Linked DNA regions of Homo sapiens: regions 1 and 2 are each linked to region 3. Evidence: fine-mapped expression QTL. A gene starts in region 3. Each other region holds a variant in brackets. All regions are shown on one strand. Distances are from middle to middle.

Evidence for each region. PIP is the estimated chance that this variant, and not a neighbour inherited with it, causes the effect. A credible set is the group of variants that fine-mapping cannot tell apart.
Region 1: its variant is the best candidate, but not a certain one, in a credible set for the expression of SMPDL3A in whole blood (TOPMed, PIP 0.55).
Region 2: its variant is the best candidate, but not a certain one, in a credible set for the expression of SMPDL3A in non-classical monocytes (Schmiedel 2018, PIP 0.87).

The regions. Positions count from the first base shown.
Region 1 is chr6:122,745,382-122,749,614 of GRCh38, reverse strand. It overlaps the pseudogene RN7SL564P and a transcript of FABP7 not described here. Among named protein-coding and RNA genes, the nearest start is that of FABP7, 32 kb to the left of the region's middle. The variant G/A (reference allele first, on the strand shown) is at 2,329.
Region 2 is chr6:122,695,438-122,699,678 of GRCh38, reverse strand. All of the region lies in intron 3 of PKIB (cAMP-dependent protein kinase inhibitor beta), which reads right to left. Among named protein-coding and RNA genes, the nearest start is that of FABP7, 82 kb to the left of the region's middle. RefSeq lists an enhancer at 2,553-3,752. The variant T/C (reference allele first, on the strand shown) is at 2,299.
Region 3 is chr6:122,787,581-122,791,821 of GRCh38, reverse strand. SMPDL3A (sphingomyelin phosphodiesterase acid like 3A) reads right to left here and starts at 2,564. Exons shown (of 8, transcript NM_006714.5): 1 at 2,364-2,564. The coding sequence starts at 2,475. RefSeq lists a cis regulatory region at 564, enhancers at 480-649, 1,753-2,252, 2,253-2,754 and silencers at 844-1,138, 2,244-2,538.

The DNA.
Region 1 (4,233 bases), 42 kb after region 3:
AAAGGATATATATGAAGTGATTCCCTGGATCTTGGGTGGTGTCAGTCATGAGAGTAGATATTTAGGGTTATAAGTCACGTTATTCCATTTTGGAGCATCGGACCTTAAGAAACAAAGACACTTCTTTTTCCTAATATGGAAATATTCACACATAAAAACAGAGAGAGAGACTATTAATCATCACTTAATTTTCACTATTATCATTATGGTCATGTGTTCTTTAATAAATGTAGGCAGCATCATAAAATGTTTTCAAAATTCAGAAAAATAAGCTGTTTACCTTTTTGTTGATTTGCTGTTTTGATAAGTGCAGATCTCCAATCCTTCTCCTTCAGTTGCATTCCACCAGGTTTAAGGGAGGAGACCACCCCTCATATTGTCTTATACCCAATTTTTGCCTCCAAAGAAAGAAGTAAAAACTAAAAGGCAGAAATGAAATCCACAAGCAGACAACCCAGTGCCACACCCTGGGCCTGGTAGTTAAAGATCAACCCCTGACCTAATTGGTTATGTTATCTATAGATTACAGACATTGTATAGAAAAGCACTGTGAAAATCCCTGTCCTATTCTGTTCCGTTCTAATTACCGGTGCACGCAGCCCCCAGTCATGTACCCCCTGCTTGCTCAATCAATCACGACCCTCTCAAGCGACCCCCTTAGAGTTGTGAGCCCTTAAAAGGGACAGGAATTGCTCACTCAGGGAGCTCAGCTCTTGAGACAGGAGTCTTGCTGATGCTCCCGGTGGAATAAACCACTTCCTTCTTTAACTCAGTGTCTGAGGGGTTTTGTCTGCGGCTTGTCCTGCTACATTTCTTGGTTCCCTGACCAGGAAACGTGGTGATTAACGGACAGTGGAGGCAGCCCCTTAGGCGGCTTAGGCCTGCCCTGTGGAGCATCCCTGCAGGGGACTCTGGCCAGCTTGAGCGACGTGGATCCTGAGAGCGCTCCCGGGTAGGCAATTGCCCCAGTGGAATGCCTCGCCAGAGCAGCACATGGCAGGCCCCCGTGGAGGATCAACACAGTGGCTGAACACCGGGAAGGAACTGGCACTTGGAGTCCGGACATCTGAAACTTGGTAAGACTAGTCTTTGGAACTTGCCCACTCCATTTGAGTGGAAGCATGGCCTGATCACCCACAGCATGCCTGTACTGGCACTTTGGTTTTTGTTTTTGACTTGACTTGAATTGCTTGATACTTTGGTTTTGGTTTTGACCTGGCTTGGATTTCTTGATACTCTGATTTTGGTTTTGATTCTGGTTTGGTGTAAACTGTAAAAGTGTGTGTGTGCCCTTTTTACCCGTTCTTCATTTTGTGGTGTGCGTGTGGTGTGAGTGTGGTGTTTTGTCTCGAGGAAATATGGGTCAGGCACAAAGTAAGCCCACCCCACTAGGAACTATATTGAAAAATTTCAAAAAGGGATTTAAGGGAGACTATAGAGGCATCATGATACCAGGAAAACTTAGAACTTTGTGTGAGATAGACTGGCCATAGAGGTGGGTTGGCCATCAGAAGAAAGCCTGGACAGGTCCCTTGTCTCGAAAGTACGGCACAGGGTAACCTGTAAGCCAGGACACCCAGATCACTTCCCATATATAGATTCTTGGTTACAGCTAGTTTTGGACCCCCCACAGTGGTTAAGAGGACAGGCAGCAGCAGTACTAGCAGCAAAGGAACAGTTCGTTAAGGAAGGTTCTCGCTCCACCCGCAGAGGGAAGTCGGCACCAAAAGTCTGTCCGACCCAACACCAGAAGAATCATGGCAGGAATTGGTACCAGCAGTACCCCCTCCTTATGGAGAGGAAGGGCTCCCCAAGCCCTGAGCCCACAGCACCTCCACCTCCACCAGATAACCACACCCCTAGACCGCCCAGAGTAGACAAAAGAGGAAGTGAAGCCGCAGGAGAAACTCCTCCCTTGGCAGCTCGCTTACTGCCCAAGACTGGAATCCAAATGCCCCTGAGACAGCAGCGATATACTGGGGTAGATGAGGACGGACACATGGTGGAAAGGTGTGCCTTTGTGTATCAACCTTTCACCTCTGCTGACCTCCTCAATTGGAAAAATAATACTCCATCTTACACTGAAAAGCCTCAAGCTTTAATTGACTTGCTCCAAACTATTATACAGACTCATAATCCTACTTGGGCTGATGGCCTCAGCTGCTCATGTACCTCTTTAATACAGATGAAAGGTGAAGGGTGCTCCAGGCAGCAACTAAGTGGCTAGAAGAGCACGTCCCAGCCGATTACCAAAACCCCCAAGAATATATAAGAATTCAGCTGCCAGGAACAGACCCCCAACGGGACCCGAATGAGGGACCAGACGTG[G/A]AGAGGCTAAGATGGTACCGTGAGACATTAATAGAAGGTCTAAAGAAAGGGTCTCAAAAGGCTACAAATGTAAATAAGGTCTCTGAGGTCATCCAAGGAAAAGAGGAGAGTCCGGCACAATTCTATGAAAGACTGTGTGAGGCTTACCGTATGTACACTCCTTTTGATCCAGATAGCCCTGAAGATCAGCGCATGATTAACATGGCCTTAGTTAGTCAAAGCGTGAAAGATATCAGGAGAAAATTGCAGAAACAAGGCTGAGTTTGCAGGTGTGAATACCTCACAGTTACTGGAAACAGCCAATCAAGTGTTTGTGAATAGAGATGCAACAAGCCGCAGAGAAAGCCGTAAGGAAGGTGAACGCCAGGCTAGGCGAAACGCCAACTTACTGGCCACGGCCATTAGGGGAATTCCTCTGAAAGGAGAGGGAAAGGGGGGGTTCCGGGAAGAATACCCAGTCTAATCCCCCACGCTTGCAACATAACCAATGCACCTACTATAAGGAAATAAGACATTGGAAAGATAAGTGTCCCCAGCTGAAGGAAAAGCAAGGTGATTCAGAACAAAAGACCTCAGATAAAGATGAGGGAGCTTTGTTCAATCTGGCTGAAGGGCTACTGGACTGAAGGGGACCGGGCTCAAGCACCACCAAGGAGCCCATGGTCAGGATTACAATTAGGGGCAAGGACATTAAATTTTTGGTCGATACTGGTGCTGAACATTCAGTAGTGACAACCCTGGTCGCCCCCTTATCCAAGAAAACCATTGATATAATCAGAGCAACAGGAGTTTCCACTAAGCAGGCTTTCTGTCTACCACGGACCTGCTTGGTGTGGGGACATAAGATAGTTCACCAGTTCTTGTACATGCCTGACTGTCCTTTGCTATTGCTGGGAAGAGTCCTGCTTAGCAAGCTGAGAGCCACCATCTGCTTTACAAAACAGGGCTCTTTACAGCTAAAGTTACCGGGAACAGGAGTTATCAAGGCCCTTACGGTCCCCCGGGAAGAAGAATGGAGACTTTTTCTAACCAAGCCAGGCCAAGAGATAAAATCAGCTCTAGCTAAGCAATGGCCCCGAGTATGGGCAGAGGATAATCCTCCAGGACTGGTGGTCAACCAAGCCCCCATACTCATAGAAGTTAAGCCTGGGGCACAACCAATTAGACAAAAGCAGTATCCAGTTCCCAGAGAAGCTCTTAAAGGAATCCAGGTTCATCTCAGGCACTTCAAAGCCTATGGAATTATAGTTCTTTGCTAGTCTCCATGGCACACCCCCCTCCTGCCTGTGCCTAAGCCAGGGACCAAGGACTACCAGCCAGTACAGGACTTATGCTTGGTCAACCAAGCTACAGTGACTCTGCACCCAACAGTTCCTAACCCTTACACATTATTAGGGCTGCTGCTAGCTGAGGACAGCTGGTTTACCTGTCTGGACTTAAAATATGCCTTCTTTTGCATCAGACTAGCTCCTGAGAGCCAGAAGCTGTTTGCCTTTCAGTGGGAAGATCCGGAGTCACGTGTCACTACTCAGTACACTTGGACCCGGCTTCCCCAAAGGTTCAAGAACTCCCCTACTATCTTTGGGGAGGCCCTGGCTCGAGACCTGCAAAAGCTTCCTGCTAAAGACTTAGGCTGCATCTTGCTCCTGTACGTGGACAACCTTCTGCTGGGACACTCCACAGCAGTCAGGTGTGCTAAAGGGACGGATGCCCTGCTTTGGCACCTGGAGGACTGTGGGTATAAGGTGTCCAAGAAGAAAGCTCAGATCTGCTGACAGCACAGGCACGATCCCACTACTGATCAGCACGGGAGTTTTGACCTGCTCAATTTCCGACCTGGGCCGGTCCACCCCTCCTTAGGCAACCTGCTGTTCCCCCGCTTCCGGGAGGTCACCATATTGATGC
Region 2 (4,241 bases), 92 kb after region 3:
AAAATAATTATTAACATGGCTCAAAGTAATTTAAAACAGGGCTTTTGAGGATTAAAATTTGTTACATGACAGCTATAGAGTGCAGGGGTTATTATCCCCACTGCTTCTCCATTTAACAACCCAATCTGGCCTGTTTGGCCTGTCCTTAAACCTGGAACAAATAAATGGTGCAGCACAGTAGACTGCTGCAACCTTAATGCCATGGTCCCATACAGTTCAGGTCCCTATTTCCAACAAACTGAGTATTGAAACTTCTGACTCCATCCAATCAGCAACTGATAAATATTTTGCTACTATGAATTAGGCTAATATGATCCATTTGGTGCCAATGTCAGCAGTTTAGCAGTCACAGTTTGCTTTTACCTCCCATGAGACACAATATATATATATATATTTTAGTTCACAAATGCAATTCTTTTTTTTTTATTATTATACTTTAAGTTTTAGGGTACATGTGCACATTGTGCAGGTTAGTTACATATGTATACATGTGCCATGCTGGTGCGCTGCTACATAATATATTTTTACCAGGCTACTCAAGGGCTACCTCAGCAGCCTTGCTACTGCACACAGTCTTTGCAGGCAGGATCTTAATGACATCCACCTTTCTCCAGGAGCACAGGTATATTACATTGATGACATCCTTCTCCAGGAAGATTTGTTTGACGTATTCATTAAGAATATACAAATACAAAGGAACTCACACAAAAAGGGTGGATATTTCACACATAGTACAAAGTCCTGTGACTTCTGTTAAATTCCTGAAAGTTATTTGGTAAAGCAAAAGCTGCTCCATCCCTGATACTGTCAAAAAACAGGTATTAACCCTCTCAGTACCTACAAGGTTAATACAAGTCCAACATCTTTTAGTCTTTTTTGGGTTCTGGAGACAACATATTCTTTTGCAAATTTTCTTTAATTTCACTAGTGCTGTTACTTACAGATTGCCCATCTTAAAGGGGAACCTCCTCAACAAAAGGCTGTAGAAGCTGTCCAAAATGAAATCAACAGGCACTCCAGTTAGTGCCCTCAGAGGCTTCAGCGACCTCATCTCATGCCTCCTGGAGTCTCTAGGCCACCTGTGATGGTCATAAGTTGCTCATGGGCTTCTGATGCAAGAAACTGCCTTTCCTGGCCTTGTACTATACACCATTACAGTGGCAATTACTGGCCACACACTGGGCTTTTCTGGAAATAGAGGGTCTCACAGACTTTGAGCCTGTGACCCTCTGTACCCAGCTACTGCAATGCCTGGTAATGCATTGGAGCAGCACCCCCATGAATCTGGCCTAGCTATGAGACCTCTTTGCGACAGGATGGAGTCAAGCTTGGCCCTTCTGGCATATTCTATCTGTAGAAGGTGGTGGCCTCCTCTACCATCAGTCCTTTGCCAAAACCATGGTGCTAGGGGAAGTCATCCCTTTCCTAGAGTCCTTGGCTACCTGGAGAGCCCCCTGGGATCAACTGAATGAATGGCAATAGAAGGCCATACATTTTACCAATGATGTTGCCACAATTATACATGATAGAGCTCAGTAGAGAGTTGTTGCTCTTAATTCCTTAACCAAGATGTCCCTGATAAAGAATAGAACCCAAGGGTCAGCACAATTGGCACACTCTAGACATTTATCTTGGCAATGGATGCCCTGGCCATTTCACCTCATATGTATATTTTTACAACTCTTAGACCATTGCCTAAGGGTCTCACTTTAAAGAACTCTGTGAATCTCTTGTTTCACAGGTACCCAAATATAAATATATAAACCAAATCAACAGGTTTCTCTACATATCCTAAGGCCACAATACAAGGCCTCAACAGGATATTCCTTATCTCATTTGCAGTTTTAGACACTAGATTGTTACCAAGGCACTCATTTTATGTCTCAGAATACACAATGGAATCTTGAAGAAAGCTTTCCATTGAAATGCAGCCTTCCCATAGGCCTCAGGTAGTTAGCCCCAGGCAGCTACTTTAATTGATAAGCCTAATGGGTTTTCAAAGAACTATTTAAGTCACAATGAGACAAATGTCCCTCTACCCCCTTGATGTCACCACTGCCACAAGCATTGGTTAGTCTCAATTCACACCCCCTGGGAGCATCCACTCTCTACATCAATGTCACACAGGTCTCTCAATTGCTTTTACTGGTTATATATGGAGACATGCCCGAAGTTCATGTTTTTGGCAACCACCTCAAAATGTGGCCCTCTCTGCTTGGTCAGGTGCCTACTTTGCTTCCTAGGAAGGCACATCTCCTAATCCCTAAAAGTCTCAGTTATCATCAAGATTTAAACTGA[T/C]GTCAAAGCATCAAGTGATCAATTGTAGCATAAAGCCAAAAATTTAGGCTTGATATCTGATAAAACAGGTCTCTAATGGCCTAACTACAAGTTCTCCTCCCATAGATCAGGTATCCTAGACAGACCACCATCCTTATGAAGGGGACCAGGCACAGTTTCTATTTATCCTTGAGTAGCAGGTTTTGTTCTCTGTTTGCCTGCCAAATCAAACAAGTGAATCACATCATTCCACAAGAACTGGGAGCACCCTACCCTCTTAATTCTCCAAAGGCTACCTCCTACAGACCTGGTTGTTCACTCTGCTCTTGAGTGCAACTCCTGTGTGGCCCTGCAAGGTGTGCCATGTCCTCCTCCCCCAGGCCATCAGTAGACATGACTAATAACTTGCTGTTGGTCTCATCTCTTCAGGGTCAGGTGGTGTTTAGCTCTCCCTCACCCACAGGGTAAATAGGAGGTGACTAAGACACCCTACCACTAATAGCATGTTCCTTTCTCTCATGAAAGGGAGACTGAAGTGTGGAGAAAAGGCATCAGGTTCACACATATCCTGTGTCCACGCTGACCCTCACTGAGCTGCAATGTGTCCAGTTACATCAGTGTGCACAGGGATCCACTGCTATTGTCTCAGGTATAACTATTACCTCAGGTAGAGATATGTGCATCTGCATCCTCTTTGTTACATCTCTGGACTTTAAGGTTGACGGTCTATTTAAATCATTCTATGCCCTCCATGAGGTCCATGAAATCACTTCAGAGTTTCACTCCTCTGAGGGGCTGAGAACTCTGTGAGGTGGCAGTCAGGCCCATCTGCCTGGGCACTTCTCTTGACCATTGCTTGTCTACCTTTCTAGGGTCGAAGAACATACAAAGAGAGCTTCTTTTTGATACCCAAATTTTCCCTGGGAAGTGAGGGATAGTCCTCTTTACATTTGGATGTTCCTTAGAATTTTTATTATTCAATCTCCCTTCTGTTCAACCCAGTGAGCTGGAATCCTGGCCACCTTCACAGAGACTTGAATAATGACTGGGGTCTCATTACATCCTGAATTCTTCTCCCACTAGCTAGTCAATGACTCATTTCCCTTCCCAGAAACATCAAAACTTTTACATCATCATATAGTAATTCCCACTCTACGGTTTGTTCTCAGTTCTTCAGTTTCAGATAGCTCAATAAATCTTTTCTTTCAAAAAGTCAGGCTATTGTCATAAATAATGCTGACTTTCAAGACTATGGCTCTTTGTTTAGATTTTAAAAAACAGAAACTTAAGTGATCGTTTGTTCTAGATTAAGTGCATCATCCCTCAGTGAACCACCTTTATAGAGTATTAAAGCAAGTATAAAGGAGTAAAGAAATCTCAGTTGATAACTAAAAATGTTATCAGCCATACACAGGTAGAACAGCTACTCTTAATTGGGCCCTTAGCTAGGCAGTGGCTTTTATTAATATATATTGTACATGGCTTTATATGCAATATTTTATTTAATCTTTACCACAGATGTCAGAGAGGGAGGGAGAGAAGAGAGAGGAGAGATAGATTCCCTACAATTCAAAAGAAACAACTGAAATAGAGTCTTTTAGATATTAAGAAACTTGCCCTAAGCTAGGATTTAAGCCCTGTCACATAGGATTCCAAAACATGGATTTTAAAAAATTTCATTATATTGCCTTTTCTAGAGTCATAGGCCCTTATAAATTTAGAAGAGATTAGACTAAAATAACTTTATAAAGTTATAAAGAAGTCACCTAAAAGTCACCTAGTACAGCCATCTACAATATGCCTGAATCATTTCAACAAGAATATTTTTCTTCTTTGAACCGCATATTCACCATAGTGTTTCAGCGAACCCAAAATATTGTTTCAGTAATTCATCTGATATGAAAACTTTAATTCATTTTTGAATCTTAAAGATCATACAATTGAATAATGTGCATAATTTTGAA
Region 3 (4,241 bases):
CTCGGGAGGCTGAGGCAGGAGAATGGCGTGAACCCGGGAGGCGGAGTTTGCAGTGAGCCGAGATTGCGCCACTGCAGTCCAGCCTGGGTGACAGGGCGAGACTGTCTCAAAATAAAAAATAAAATAAAATAATAAAATAAATTTTTAAAAAGACTTCCAAAAATATGTGTGTGTGTTCAGCAAATCTAGAAAAACTCTCAAAATTATACCAGAAAATCTTTTAATCCAAAATATTTTATAACTTCTCAAGAATCCAATGAACCATAGTTCAGACATAATTCAGCTCGCCTTATGCCTTATTTGAACATAGTTTGAACACTCAGCAGTATATGAATGGTTGAAGTATGGCTGCTGGGATTGGCCAAACTTAGCTATTGTTACCAGTGCATACTCTTAAGTTAGGTTTTCAGTCTCATCTGACTATTAAGCTAGGTTACAGTTCATTCACAAGGATTCAAATATAGAAGTAAGGAGTCCTTCTCAGGCCGTATTTAGTTTGCTTTAACAGTACCAATACACAAGCCAGTCCCAGCCTACTCAATCTAAAGAACTGTAGCCAAAAACACACAGGTGAAGCTTCCTAGAACTTCTGTCGTCCGACCACCAGGACTTGACAGGGCAGAAAACTAAGACTGGGAATTTAAACGCAAAAACACAAAACAAGAAAGCAGTAGCCAGGCAGGGTGGATGCTGAAAGGAAGTCCAAGCATGTGGGGCTGAGAGGAGGCAGGAGAGTTGTCACATCAAGTGGAAAATACGCAAAATATTACAAACAAGGAGAATTGTGAAACTGCTGAGTGAACACTTCAGACCTTTGAACTCCAGTAACACTTCAGACTTTCGAACTCCAGTGACTCCAGTAACACTTCAGACCACTGAACTCCAGTAACCCCTCTTCCTTCCCCTTTAGTAGGAGGGGATTCAACCTTGCAGTTTCCCAAACAGGAGGTGTGAAGACTCACAGAGTCCCCAGAAAGCGCTCATTCAGGCCTCTTTAAAACACAGGTGAATTTGCCATTGTGTGGCCTCAAGCAACGTGAGACATTTTATTTCAAAACCCTAACCGGTCACATAATTAAAGGAACACAAGCTAAGCCGTAATAAAAGCAGAAACCAGTATACATAAACATTTTGGGGAAATTTCTTGTAATGACTGACATTTGCCACAGTTCGGAAACCAGATTTACAGTTTTTGCTTCAGACCTGACAGCTGAGTCGTGAGGACTTGGCCTTCAAAGAGAAGATATTTGCCCTAGAGCGCTCCCAAGTCCTGAGAAAGCACAGAGGGAGCGAAAGAGGTTTCAGCACTAGGTGCTGCTACCGAGTCTCAGGGACAACTCTCCCCTAAAAGAAAACAGAACCCCACTTCTCTAATTTTGTTTTTCCTCTTAACAGTGCAATTATTTTTAAAGGGAGTTGAGGAGGTGAGGGCACCTTGATTTTTGGAACTGGAGGCTCGGATGGCATTGTACAATCTCCCACCAAAATGTATCTATTCTGGACCAGTGAGTCTCAAACTTAGCCGAAAGGAATCATGCGGAGGGTGGGTTAAACAGCATACTGTGGAAGCCCAACGCCGGCGTTTCAGATTCAGTAGGTCTGGGATGGGCTGGAAATTTGCAATGCTAACAATTTTAAGTGCGGCGGCTGCTGCCACCGGTCCAGGGCACACTTAAGAGAATCACTACTGTAACGGGCACTGTGTTAAGTGCTGGGAGTGAATAAAATGGGTCCCGCCCGCAGGAAACCTAGTGGACATCCAGGTGAAATGAAGTCCCCGTGAGTTCCACGGTAGACTAAGGGGTGAGTCTACCCGAGGGTGCTTTCGCGCTCTGGCTGGGTGAGTGGCAGAAAAAGCCACTGATCTCGGTCGAGCAAGACAGAAGATAGTGTGAGTCACGCTGAAATTTACTTCCCTGAGCTGGTGGGGAAACTGCAGTCCCCCTCCATTCAGGACCGATTAGGGGCCTCTTGCTGTGCTGGACATCGGACTCCCAGCTTCCTCTTCCCTTGAGTCCCGCAGCTTTTCCTTCCTTCCCCAAGGAACAAAACAACTGAGATGCAGGATGTAAACAAAAGCCAGGCTGGCGAAATCCGGCCGACGCGCCCTTGGAGCGCCCCCACCGGCGAGGGCATTTCCCCCGCCCAGCCCCGGCCTCCCGGCTGGACGCCCTAACGCTGTAGTCCCTTGGTCGCCCTCCCCGCGCCCACCAGCCGTGGTCAACGCCGGACGCGTCAGGGGCCCCGCTAGCCCGAGCCTCTGCCGGGGGCAGCTGCCCCCACGCACTTTCTCCTGCTGTGCGCAGGCGCCGCCGCTCCGCGCTCTTTGCCGGCTGGGAAGAGAAGGGTCGCGGACAACTCACCTATCGCCGGAGGAGGATTCCTGCCGCCTGCGGGCGCCACGGGCAGCCCGAGGCCGGAGCGGCAGTGCCAGGCAGTCAGCAGGCAGCAGACGAGTGCGCGCACCAGCGCCATGGAGGGCCGCGGGGCTGACCTGGAGGTTCGGGCTGTCCCGCAGCTCCACTCGGACCGTCAGGCCTGAGGGTGAGGCGGAGACAGAAGACGGCTGCGGGTGTAGACGTCCGACTGATCACGTGCAAAGGCAGATTCCGCAGCGAGTCAGTTCGCCTGACCTTCAGCTGCTGTTTAGCGATGATCTGTTCTCGTATTTCTTAGCGTCAGTGTTTGGCCTAGGAAGGAATGTACTTGTAGAAGCTCAAATTCCGACTCGTGTATCAGTGGTGCAGTTGATGTCAAACACTGACATACTGGTGCTTGGGGATAGAGAAAGACATTCAATTTAGTAAAAGCCAGAAGGAGGGAGAACAAGATCTCTCAAATCCGTGTGTAAAAAGGAAAAAGCAGGGAGTTTTTATTCTGCTAGAGAATAAGAGAGGGGGATTTTCAAAGAATCCAGGGGAAAAGTCTGTTTCTTCAGTCTCAGATAACACCTTTGAGCAATTAGACGTCCAGGCATCCGCAGCTGGTTGCAAAGCCCTTGGAGGTATTCATCCCTTCTGCAAACATTTTTGTGACCCTGAAGTTAACCTCTTTGTTCTTGACGAGGAAGCAGTACCTCAGCAGTTTATAATTATATTGTGGAAACAAGGAGAATATTGGGCAAAAAGCGAGTGGTTAAAATGTGCAAGCAAGCAGGAGCCTGATCAGAATTTTCATTATTTCAGTCACTAAAAAATGCTGGGGTGCTGAAATCTCAACGATCCCGGTTCCATTCTTGGGCCAACCTACCCCAGCTTTAATGGGTAGGGCTCCTCAGTAGAGGTGATGCAGAGAGCCCTGAAGTATCATGATTTGAAGGAAATCAGCAAAAGTTATGGATACTGCAGTGGATCTCGAATTGAAGTCTCTGAACTGGGAACATTAGCACCACCTGGGAACTCTAGTTAGAAATGCAAATTCCCAGGCACCACCCTAGACCTGTTGAGTCAGAAACCTGCTGGAGCCCAGCAGTTTGTGTTTTCACAAGCATTTCAGGTCATGTTAAAGTGATTGTGATGTTTGAAAACCAATGCTCAAAGATACGACGTTTTGTTTTTTGTTTTTTTTAAACTGCCGGGAAGAGAAGGGTCTTAGAATTAGAACATGTTCTGAAATCATGCTTTATGCATTCCAGAGATGCATGGAAATCATAAGTAGAGGTGGTTGATTTGATGCTTCCACGGAACTTTTTTGAATATACTTCTGGCAAAGAAGTAAGTCTATACAAAGAAGTAAGCAAAGATAAGTCTGGCAAAGAAGTAAGTCTATACAAAGAAGTAAGCAAAGATAAGTCTGGCAAAGAAGCCAGAATCCCGAAACTGTGCTGGATCCTGTATTCTGTGTTCCTTCTCTCACCGTTTATGAGGATGCTGATCTCTTGGAGATGACAAGCTAATAATTTAAATTTATAGGGCGTGGAATTCCTTTGCAGAAGAAAATGCTTTCCATAATTACTAACCTCAAAAAAGATGTTGTAGAGTGTATTTCTTTCCCAGCATAGAAAGCTTTGTTTTGTATCCCATGTAATTTAATGGGAGTGTGTGTCATGAAACGGGCTTTGAAGTGGGAAGCAAGGTGCTTCCATTTTCTGTTTTGTAAACCAAAAATAAAATTTGAAGGCCCCCCACAACCATCTGAATGGACGACCATCTGTATGGACTCTTTCCCCAGTCAGGGCACTCTAAAATTTAACCTGAAAGACTGGTTCAGGCCATGAAAAAGGGGATGGGGGGGTTGGACAT